Regions from separate parts of the Homo sapiens genome. Here region 1 is linked to region 2. Evidence: fine-mapped expression QTL. A gene starts in region 2. The other region holds a variant in brackets. All regions are shown on one strand. Distances are between the middles of the regions. Region 1 has its middle 13 kb from the start of SNORD72. Region 2 holds the start of CARD6 (caspase recruitment domain family member 6).

Evidence for each region. PIP is the estimated chance that this variant, and not a neighbour inherited with it, causes the effect. A credible set is the group of variants that fine-mapping cannot tell apart.
Region 1: its variant is the best candidate, but not a certain one, in a credible set for the expression of CARD6 in whole blood (TOPMed, PIP 0.64).

What each region holds. Positions count from the first base shown.
Region 1 is chr5:40,816,550-40,821,942 of GRCh38, reverse strand. No RefSeq gene overlaps it. Among named protein-coding and RNA genes, the nearest start is that of SNORD72, 13 kb to the left of the region's middle. The variant A/G (reference allele first, on the strand shown) is at 2,251.
Region 2 is chr5:40,838,868-40,844,260 of GRCh38, reverse strand. It overlaps CARD6 (caspase recruitment domain family member 6), which reads right to left and starts at 2,894. Exons shown (of 3, transcript NM_032587.4): 1 at 2,596-2,894; 2 at 552-1,109. The coding sequence starts at 2,878.

The DNA.
Region 1 (5,393 bases), 22 kb after region 2:
GTTTGAAAGTGTGTGGCACCTCCCACCACTCTCGCTTGCTCCTGTCGTACCATGTAAGATGCCTGCTCCCGCTTTGGCTTCCACCATGAGTAAAAGCTCCTTGAGGCCTCCCCAGAAGCTGAGCAGATGTCGTTGCCATGTTTCCTGTACAGCCTGCAGAGCTATGAGCTAATGAAACCTCTTTTCTTTGTAAATTACCCAATCTCAGGTATTTCTTTATAGAAATGCAAGAATAGCCTAAGAATAATCTACCCAGTTCATGGTATTTTGTTACAGCAGCCCAAACAGACGAAGAATAGTTTTACAACTTGCCTCAGTGATTAATCAGCAAAGTGATTCACTCCCAATCAAAACTTGTTTGAACACTGGTTTGCTAATGATCAAAAATAATTGTCAAGCAGGCAGAATATCCTTGATGACCTGACACACACTTTTTCAACTCTAAAAGGGCATCTTATTTTTGTTTTCTTAAGGAAGTACCTTTCTATGGCTTGCATGAACTGACCAAAGAGGGAAGAAAGTAGGGAATCTTTAACATAGAGCTAGTAGGTAAGGCACACTGTTTAAGATCAGACATAGTGCCTTAGAACACAGCCACACACAGCTTGGTTGATTACATGATACAGCTGATGCAAGTGGGCCTGGACCTGAAACTAGACCTAATAACTAGGAGGAAATTTTGGGAAACATTGGACCAGCATTCCCAAATGCTAAACATGTACACTATCACAAAGACACAATGTTTTACCCATGGAAATTTGTTGCTGTATTATTTATAATACAAGAAAATAGAGCAGCTGTGCTGGGATTACAGGATGTGGTGGCTCATGCCTGTAATCCCAGCACTGTGGGAGGCCAAGGTAGACAGATTGCTTGAACCCAGAAGTTCAAGACCAGCCTGGACAACATGGCGAAACCCCATCTCCACAAAAAATACAAAATTTAGCCAGGCATCATAGCACATACTTGTAGCCCCAGCTACCAGGGAGGCTGAGGTGGCAGGATCACTTGAGCCCAGGAGGTTGAGGCTGCAGCTGTGAGCATGCTACTGCACTCCAACCTGGGTGACAGAGTGAGATTCTGTCTCAAAAAAAAAAAAAAAAAAGAAAAGAAAAAAAGAAAAAGGAAGTAGAAAAGTAGAAACAACTGGCCAGGCGTGGCTCATGCCTGTAATCCCAGAACTTTGGGAAGCCAAGGTGGGTAGATCACTAGAAGACCAGCCTACCCAACATGGTGAAAACCCACATCTCTACTAAAAATACAGAAAATTAGCCGGGCATGGTAGCAGGCACCTGTAATCCCAGCTACTTGGGAGGCTGAGGCAGGAGAATCGTTTGAACACAGGAGGCAGAGCTGCAGTGAGCCGAGATCGCACCATTGCACTCCAGCCTGGGCAACAAGAGTGAAAAGTGAAGGCTGGGCACGGTGGCTCACACCTGTAATCCCAGCACTTTGGGAGGCTGAGGTGGGTGGATCACCTGAGGTCAGGAGTCCAGCCTGGCCAACATGGTGAAAACCCCTCTCTACTAAAAATACCCAAAATTAGCTGGGCGTAGTGGTGGGCACCTGTAATCCCAGCTACTCAGGAGGCTGAGACAGGAGAATCGCTTGAACCCGGGAGGTGGAGGTTGCAGTGAGCTGAGATCATGCCATTGCACTCCAGCCTGGGCAACAAGAGTGAAACTGTGTCTCAAAAAAAAAAAAAAAAAAGAAAAGAAAAGAAAAGAAAAAGAAAAGTAGAAACAACTAAATCCCCTAAGTAGAGGTTGAGGTTGAGTTAAATAAATTATGGCATATCTTAATGGAATAGTAAAACAGCTCTTCAAACAAACAAACAAACAAACAAACAAAAACAACCAAGGCTTTACTAGCTTCAGTAGTCAAGATAGTGAGTATTGGTGTAATAATAGATATATACACCAGTGAAACATAATGGAATCCAGATATAGGCTCACAGAAATATGGTCATTGATTTTTGACAAAGATGTCAAGGTAATTCAATCAAGAAAGGATAATCTTTTCAGCAAATTGTACTGGAACAACTAGACATCCATATGCAAAAATAAAATAAAAATAGAGTCTCTGTTCTGAGACTTAACAGAGTTAAATAAATAAATAAGTAGAATCTCTGCATGGAACTGCAGGTGAACAGAAAAAATATTTTTAATAAAATTAAAAGACTCTCAAACCTTGACTTGTACCACTAAGTCAGGATGGATCAACGATATAAATGTAAAACCTAAAATTCTA[A/G]AAACCTATGAGAAAAACAGGAGAAAATCTTTGTGACTTAGGGTTAGGCAAAGATTTCTTAGATACGACATAAAAAGCACTATCTATTTTTTTAAATGATAAATTGGGCTTTATCACAACTAAACTCTCTGTTTTCCAAAAGACACAAGAAAATAAAAAGGTTTGGAGAAAATATATAAATACATGTATGATATGTATATATATATATATATATATATACACATACATATCACTTGAACCTGGGAGGCGGAGGTTGCAGTGAGTGGAGATCATGCCACTGCACAGAGTGAGACTCCATCTCAAAAAAAAAAAAAAAGAAAAGAAAACAAAAAACATTTTTTTTTTTTTTGAGACAGAGTCTCACTCTGTCACCCAGGCTGGAGTGCAGTGGCATGATCTCGATCTCGGCTCACTGCAAGCTTTGCCTCTTGGGTTCACGCCATTCTCCTGCCTCAGCCTCCTGAGTAGCTGGGACTACAGGCACCTGCCACCACACCCGGCTAATTTTTTTTTTGTATTTTTAGTAGAGACGGGGTTTTACCGTGTTAGCCAGGACGGTCTCGATCTCCTGACCTCATGATCCATCCGCCTCGGCCTCCCAAAGTGCTGGGATTACAGGCGTGAGCCACCGAGCCTGGCCAAAACCAATTTTTTTAAATGGGCAAAATATCTGAACAGATAGTTCATCAAATAATAAATATGCATGGCAAATAAACAGATGCAAAGATGCTCAACATCATTAGTCCTTAGGGAAATGCAAATTGAAATACAATGGAATAATATTGCACATCTACTAGAATGGCTAAAATAAAAAATATACAATGACAATATCAAGTGCCAATGAGAAATTCTTTGCTGGTAGAAATGAAAAATGATACGGCCACTTTGAAAAAAATTTGGCTGTTTCTCACAATTCGCAATTGCAAAGATAACCAACTTAAGTGCCCATCAACCAACGAGTGGATAAAGAAAATGTGTTTTATATACACAGTAGAATACTACTCAGCCATAAAAAGGAATGAAATAATGTCTTTTGCAGCAACTTGGATGGAGCTAGTGGCCATTATTCTAAGTGAAGCAACTCAGGAATGAAAAACCAAATATATGTTCTCACTTATAAGTGGCAGCTAATCTATGAGGATGCAAAGGCATAAGAATGATGTAATGGACTTTGGGGACTTATCAGGGAAGTTCAGGAGGAAAATTAGGTATAAAAGACTGTATATTGGGTACACTGTACACTGCTTGGGTGATGGGTGCGTTAAAGTTTCAGAAATCACCACTAAAGAATGTATCCATGTAACCAGAAACCACCTGGACCCTAAAAACTATTGAAATAAAAAATTTTTAATGCGGCTGTTTCTTATAAAGTGAACAATACATTTACTATACAACCCCAGCAATCCCACTCTTAACTATATCTACTCGAGAAGAATGAAAACACAGTCTTGTGTGTGAATGTTTATAGAAGGCTATTCCTGCTCCAAGAACTGGAAACAACTTAAACATTGTAAGTAGAGAATGGACAAATTTTGGTATATGCATACAATGGAATACTATTCATCAATAAAAATAAATGAACTACTGATACATGCAACACAATATGGATGAGTCTCAAAACAAAAGGATTATGCTAAGTGAAAGGAGTTGGATACAAAAGGCTGCATACTGTACAGGTCCTTTTTTTTTTTTTTTTTTTTTTTTTTTCAGACAGAGTCTTGCTGTGTCTCCCAGGCTGGTGTGCAGTGCAGTGGCAAGATCTTGACCCACTGCAGCCCCCGCCTCCTGGATTCAAGCAATTCTCCTGCCTCAGCCTCTGGAGTAGCTGGGATTACAGGTGCTCACCACCATGCCCACCTAATTTTTGTATTTTTAGTAGAGATAGGGTTTCACCATATTGGCCAGGCTGGTCTTGAACTATTTTTTTTTTTTTTGAGATGGAGTCTCACTCTGTTGCCCAGGCTGGAGTACAATGGTATGATCTCGCTCATTGCAACTTCTGCCTCCTGGGTTCAAGCAATTCTCCTGCCTCAGCCTCCCTAGTAGCTAGGATTACAGGCACCCACGACCAGGCCCGGCTAATTTTTGTATTTTTAGTAGAAACGGGATTTTGCCATGTTGCCCAGGCTGGTCTCCAACTCCCGACCTTTGGGATCTGCCCGCCTTGGCCTCCCAAAGTGCTGGGATTACAGGCGTGAGCCACCACGCCCAGCCTGGTCTCGAACTCTTGACATCAAATGGACCACCTGCCTTGGCCTCCCAAAATGCTGGGATTATAGGCATGAGCCACTGTACCTGGCCACAATTCTCTTTATATGACATTCTGAAGAAGGCAAAACTAGAGGGACAGAAATCAAAAAGGCATAAGGGAATGTTTTTGGGTGATGGAGGTATTTCATATCTTTATTATGGAATTTACACAACTATATACAGTTTCTTTTCTTTTTTCTTTCTTTTTTTTTTTTTGAGATGGAGTTTTGCTCTTGTTGCCCAGGCTGGAGTGCAATGGCGCAATCTCAGCTCCCCGCAACCTCCACCTCCCGGGTCCAAGTGATTCTCCTGCCTCAGCCTCCCTAGTAGCTGGGATTACAGGCATGTGCCACCACATCTGGCCAATTTTATATTTTTAGTAGAGAGGGGTATCTCCATATTGGTCAGGCTGGTCTCGAGCTCCTGACCTCAGGTGATCTGCCCGCCTTGGCCTCCAAAAGTGTGGGATTACAGGCATGAGCCACTGCACCTGGCCACAACTATATACATTTTTTGAAGCTCATAGAACTCTACACCTAGGCCAGGCAGGGTGGCTCAAATCTGTAATCCTAGCACTTCGGGAGGCCGAGGCAGGAGGATTACTTGTGCTCAGGAGTTCGAGACCAGCCTGAGCAACAATGTGAGACTCCGTCTTTACTTAAAAAAAAATTAATAAAATATATATACACACACACACATATATATATATACACATATATATATACACACATATATATACACATACATATATATATATAAAACTCTACACTTAGGGTGAATTTTACTGTATGTAAATTATACTTCAGTAAACTTAACTTTGAAAAGAAAGAATAAGAGAAATTAGAAGACGATGGAGCAATACCTTCAAAATTCTGAAGGAAATGTTTTCCAAC
Region 2 (5,393 bases):
AAAAACAAATTTTTTTTAAATAAAGAAATATTCAGATTCAAGATACAAATATAATTCTCATCAAGATGGCATTATGTGGACTGGATCAAGCCAAGTAACAATATTTTGGGATCTTAGCCATTTACTGACTGTTTTCACTTAAATAGTCAAACCCATAATCCCCATATCTCTCTGGTCACAAAGGCACTAAAATAACTAAAGTGGTTTAACCTGAGAAATAGGTTAGCCTGAAATTAATGATTAGCAACTCCTCGTACGTATAATGGGAAATTAATGATTGGCAACTCCTTATACGAACTACAGAAATTTACAAACTGACAATCAATATTTACTTTTGCTTATGCTGTCCATCATTTCCTAGGTCCTGGGAGCTCCTTTAAGTCAACACCTACCTCGAGGAGATTCCAGGTCAGAGAGGCACGAGGAATTTCTTAGTAGTTGATTTTCTGCTGACATCTGTCCCTTTTTCATCCCCCATCCCCATTATGTCATGGCAAGCTTATTAACTTATTAAGTTGTTGCCTAACTAACTATACAAGATATTTCCATACCTTCTATACTTTTCTCCTGTTCCTCCTCCAATGAAAGGCTGGTTTCTGATCCCTCATAACTTGGTTCTTCACCAGAGAACTCTGTGGTTTCTGAATTCTCGAAGTCCTCTTCACCATCATATCCAACGTGCTCTGGGTCATCATAAACCTCCTCTTCCACAGTGGCTTCTGCATCTTCAGGGGTGTCAACAGATCCTAGATATTCCTCTTTTCCTAAGTATAAAGAATCATCTAGCTCCTCATATCTCTGTCCATCTTTTATATATGTAATAGTTGCTGGAACTTCACATCCAACTTTCTCAACTGAATATGATAATGTGACTTCTGGTGTGTCATATTCCTTCTCATTCTTCCTGGCAGACAAAGCTGTTTCCCTATAACTAGTTTTCTTGTCCCTGAAAAACTCAGAGGTTTCCAAATCCAAGTGTTCCTTCTCACTGAAGAACACTGTGATCTCAGGGGCTTCAGGCTGTTTTATTCCAGGAGAAAAAGCATCTTCTGAATTACTGCTTGCCCCCATAGATTGAGGAGGTACTGTATTCTCATGTTTTAAAACTTCTGCAAAGAAAAGAATTGTTTTTCCCAATTAAGAAAAAGAAGCTGTATAACAGCTAGAGTTCCTGAGGCCTCAAAGCTTCATCCCTCTCCTTTTATTTATTTATTTATTTTTTGAGACAGAGTTTCACTCTTGTTGCCGAGGCTGGAGTGCAATGGCACGATCTGGGCTCACTGCAACCTCAACCTCCCGGGTTCAGGTGATTCCCCTGCCTCAGTCTCCCAAGTAGCTGGGATTACAGGCATGCGCCATGATGCCCAGCTAATTTTTGTATTTTTAGTAGAGACAGTGTTTCACTATGTTGGTCAGGCTGGTCTCAAACTCCTGACCTCAGGTGATCCATCTGCCCCGGCCTCCCAAAGTGCTGGGATTACAGGTGTGAGCCACAGCGCCCAGCCACCTCTTATTTCACTGGAGGACAGGAATACCTAACACCTCCTATATAACTTGCATGTCAACATGTCAACTTTCAGAACTTTCTTTTTTCCACTAAAAAAAAAAATCAGATCACACCACTGTCTTGCTTAAAGTTTGAGTCCTTCCTAGCAACCTTACAGGGTAAGTGAATAAAACGAAAAATTTGAATCATATGAACAGTGTTTACTTGTGGACTTACTGTGACTCACAACAGACTCACGTCTCTTGGGGTCATTGCTAATGAAATCTGATCACAAATAATTTCTAATCAGTAAGCAAATGGCTCTATTTGGAATAGTGTGCTTTAGAAATAATAAAAGAAAAATTTCTAAGCATATAAATCTTGTCCTAAATTAGGTATCACTAACATTCACCTTTTTATCTGAGCCTCTACCTCTCTAACATCCCTTAAAATAATTTTGAATTTTTTTTTAGATTCCTAGAAAAAGAGCTAGACCTAGTCCTAGTAGTAATTTACAGAATTGCTAAATAACTGGAAGAATTGCTTTTTCATGGACTACTAGTTATCTTTGAACCATTTAAGAATTAGCACTGGAATTGCTCCAGAAAACAGCTGCTGCTGGCATTCTTATCACCAAAAAAATGAAACTACTGATTTGCCATCTATGTGTTAAAAATTATTTTCCTTGTATTTTCAAAACGGCTATACTAAGTGAAAGATACAGCTTGTGGTCTTGGCACTGTAAATATCCACGAATTCATCTACTTGAAAAACAAACCCTGGATTGTGTTATTATTAAAGTATTTTCCTTCCAACTGTGAGATTTTAGCATGTTACTGCCAGAATAATGAGCAGTTTGTTAGCACTAAAACAACTTCAAGTTTTGAGTACAGTCTGAAAAACAAATTATCGATTCAGTAGACCAATAAGATGTTAAATTTCAGAAACTTTTTAAATTCCAGTTTTTCCCTATTTCATATTTCAATGAAAATTATCTCCAGAAAAAGACTAACAAAAATAAAAGGCAACAATTTTCTTTCATTTTGTTTTCTTTTTCAGAAAGTCTGCCCCCTTCCTCTCACCCCAAAAAGTATACAAAGTCAACTTACCATGCCTTAAGCCGCAAATGGCAGCTGACTGTGGAAAAGTACTAAATAAACACTTGAGAAAATGCTGACAGGTCGCCTCTCCCTTTTTCTGTACCAAAATTAACAGCTTCCGACTTTTCTTCAGGAGATCTGTAACATTCTCCAGAGTCTCATACTCTTCCTCAGAAATCAGCCTCCGAGAAGTTAACGTGTCTAAGATAGAATCAGGATCATGTTGAAGGATTTCAAGCAACTTTTTTCTTTCTCTTTCTATGATCTCTGAGGGAGTACTCTCGGTAGCCATTGTTCCTGTTTCCTCTAAACCAGGAAATATATTATGAAATCATCCTAATGAATAAGTAAAAGTTAAAAAAAGAATGACAAAGAACAATTCTATTTGGCTAAGCTTTAACATGTCAATGATGCCTAGTGTTGGAGAGTGCAGATACAAGCACAGTGGGGCAACCCAGCTCGGAGCACTCTCTGATCCGGGGTCCTTGTGGATTATTTATCTGCTCTTTTGAAGTCTTGATAAATTCTCACCATGACTCAGACCCAGGGTCACCTCCTCCAAGAAGTCGCTCTTGAACTTCAGGTTGGACTAGGTATTCCCTGCTCAGAGAACTATACTATGATGCCAAGAATGTAAATTATTAATTGATATTTGGTGGGCAATATGGCAATATACAGCAATAAATAAATAAAGTTGAAGACAGACAAAAATAAAACTTCATATCCTTCAACCCAGCAATTCCAGTTCTAGGAAATTATCTTAAGGAAATAATTGAGCAAATGCCCGAAGATGTATGTACAAGAATCTGCATTACAACATTGTTTACAACAGTACAAAATTGAAAATAACCAAAGTTGGGGTTTAGGGAATAAATATTGACATGTCGACAGTGAAACACCAAAGAACTGTTAAAAAGGATAAAGTACATCTCTACATATTGACAAGTAATGATATCCATGATATATTGCTATGGAAACAGCAAGTTATAGATCTCATTTTTGTTTTAAAAAACTTAATGTGTATATAGTATATGTATATAATATGTATATGCAGATATGCATTATATTTTAAAGAAGACAAGAGATATCCCAAATTTTAACACTGGTTATCTCTGAGAATATGACTACAGGGAGATTTATACTTCCACTTTAAACATTACTATTTAATATTTTACATTTTTGGTTTTTTATTATTATTTATTTTAAGAAAATTACCTGGTTGGTCTTTATTTACTCCTTCATAGTTCACAAGAACCTGAAAGCGATCTGCATAACTAGCAACAGGATACTGGATGAATAAACTGTGATATTTCTTATAACATAATATTACATGGCATTCAAAAAGAATGAACTTCAGTGACCCACAATATAGAGAAATCATAACAATAGTAAGGAAAAACTGTAAATCCCAAAAGATTATATACAGTATGACAACCTTTTTAAAAGTTGAAAATAAACACACCCTTACATTTAAGAGTATACATGAAGTCATTAAAATTATACAAAACAAAAAGCAAAGAATGATAAATATGAAATTCAGAATGATGGTTACCTCGCATATGGGGAGCTTGGGGATGGGATGGGATTGGGGAGGAGATCATGGATGTCCTACAATGTAGGAGTTGGGCCTATCAGGGCTACTATATTGTTAAAGGTAAATAGCTAATATGTAAATAAAAGCAGAACATGCATGAACCAATGCTATTAGGAACCAAGGATAATGAGTAATACAATTCTGGTATCTCCAAGGTTAAAAAAGAATTTTAAAATCCTGGCTGGGCGAGGTGGCTCATGCCTGTAATCCCAGCACTTTGGGAGTCTGAGGAAGATCACTTGAGACCAGGAGTTTGAGGCCAACCTGAGCAACATAGCAAGACCCTGTCTCTACAAAAAATTTAAAAATTATCTGGTCGTGATGGTGCGCATCTGTAGTCCCAGCTGCTTGGGACAGGAGGCTGAGGCAGGAGAGCTGCTTCGGCCCAGAAGTTTGAGGTTGTAGTAAGTTACTCTAGCCTAGGCTCTTAAAAAAAAAAATCCTCATATGATATTAAAAATTAATATTAGGTAAGAGTTTTATAAAATTGAAGAGTTTTAAAATTTTTATTTACTTTGACCAATTATAATCATATATAGTTATGGGATATTCAGTAATTTTATATGTATGCAGTATGGAATGATTCACTCAAATTAACATATACATCACCTTCAATACTTATAATTTATTCCTCCTGTCTGTGACTTTGTATCCTTTGACCAGCACCCTTCCCTTCCCCGCAACTCCCAGCCTCTCTCTGGTAACCACCATTATACTCTAGGTAAGAGTTTTAAAATATGTATCTCAAAAGTATGGCTTTCAAGTGATGCATCCCACCTCATGTCCACAATTTGATTGGCACTGTCATAAAGATTGCCAATTTTTTGTTGTTGTTGTTCAACTTGACCAGGAAGGTACTTTAATAACAGGTGTCCCAAACCACCAGTCTCCTCTCCAATGCTCAACCCTAAATATGCTCCTTTCTCACAGTAACCTTTCTGAGATTTCAAAGCCAATGGGAAAAAAGTGTTCACTTGAAGTGGGAAACTTAGCACTGAAATTTAAACTTCTTTCTACAAGTTTTCCTTTTGTTTTGTTTTGAAACAGAGTCTCACTCTGTTGCCCTGACTGGAGTGCAATGGTGCAATCATAGCTCACAGCAGCCTCAAACTCCTGGGCTCAAGCAATCCTCCCCCCTCAGCTTCCTGAGCAGCTGGGAGTATAGGCTTGCGCCAACCTGTTCAGCTCTTTTTAAAAAAAAAATTTTGTGGAG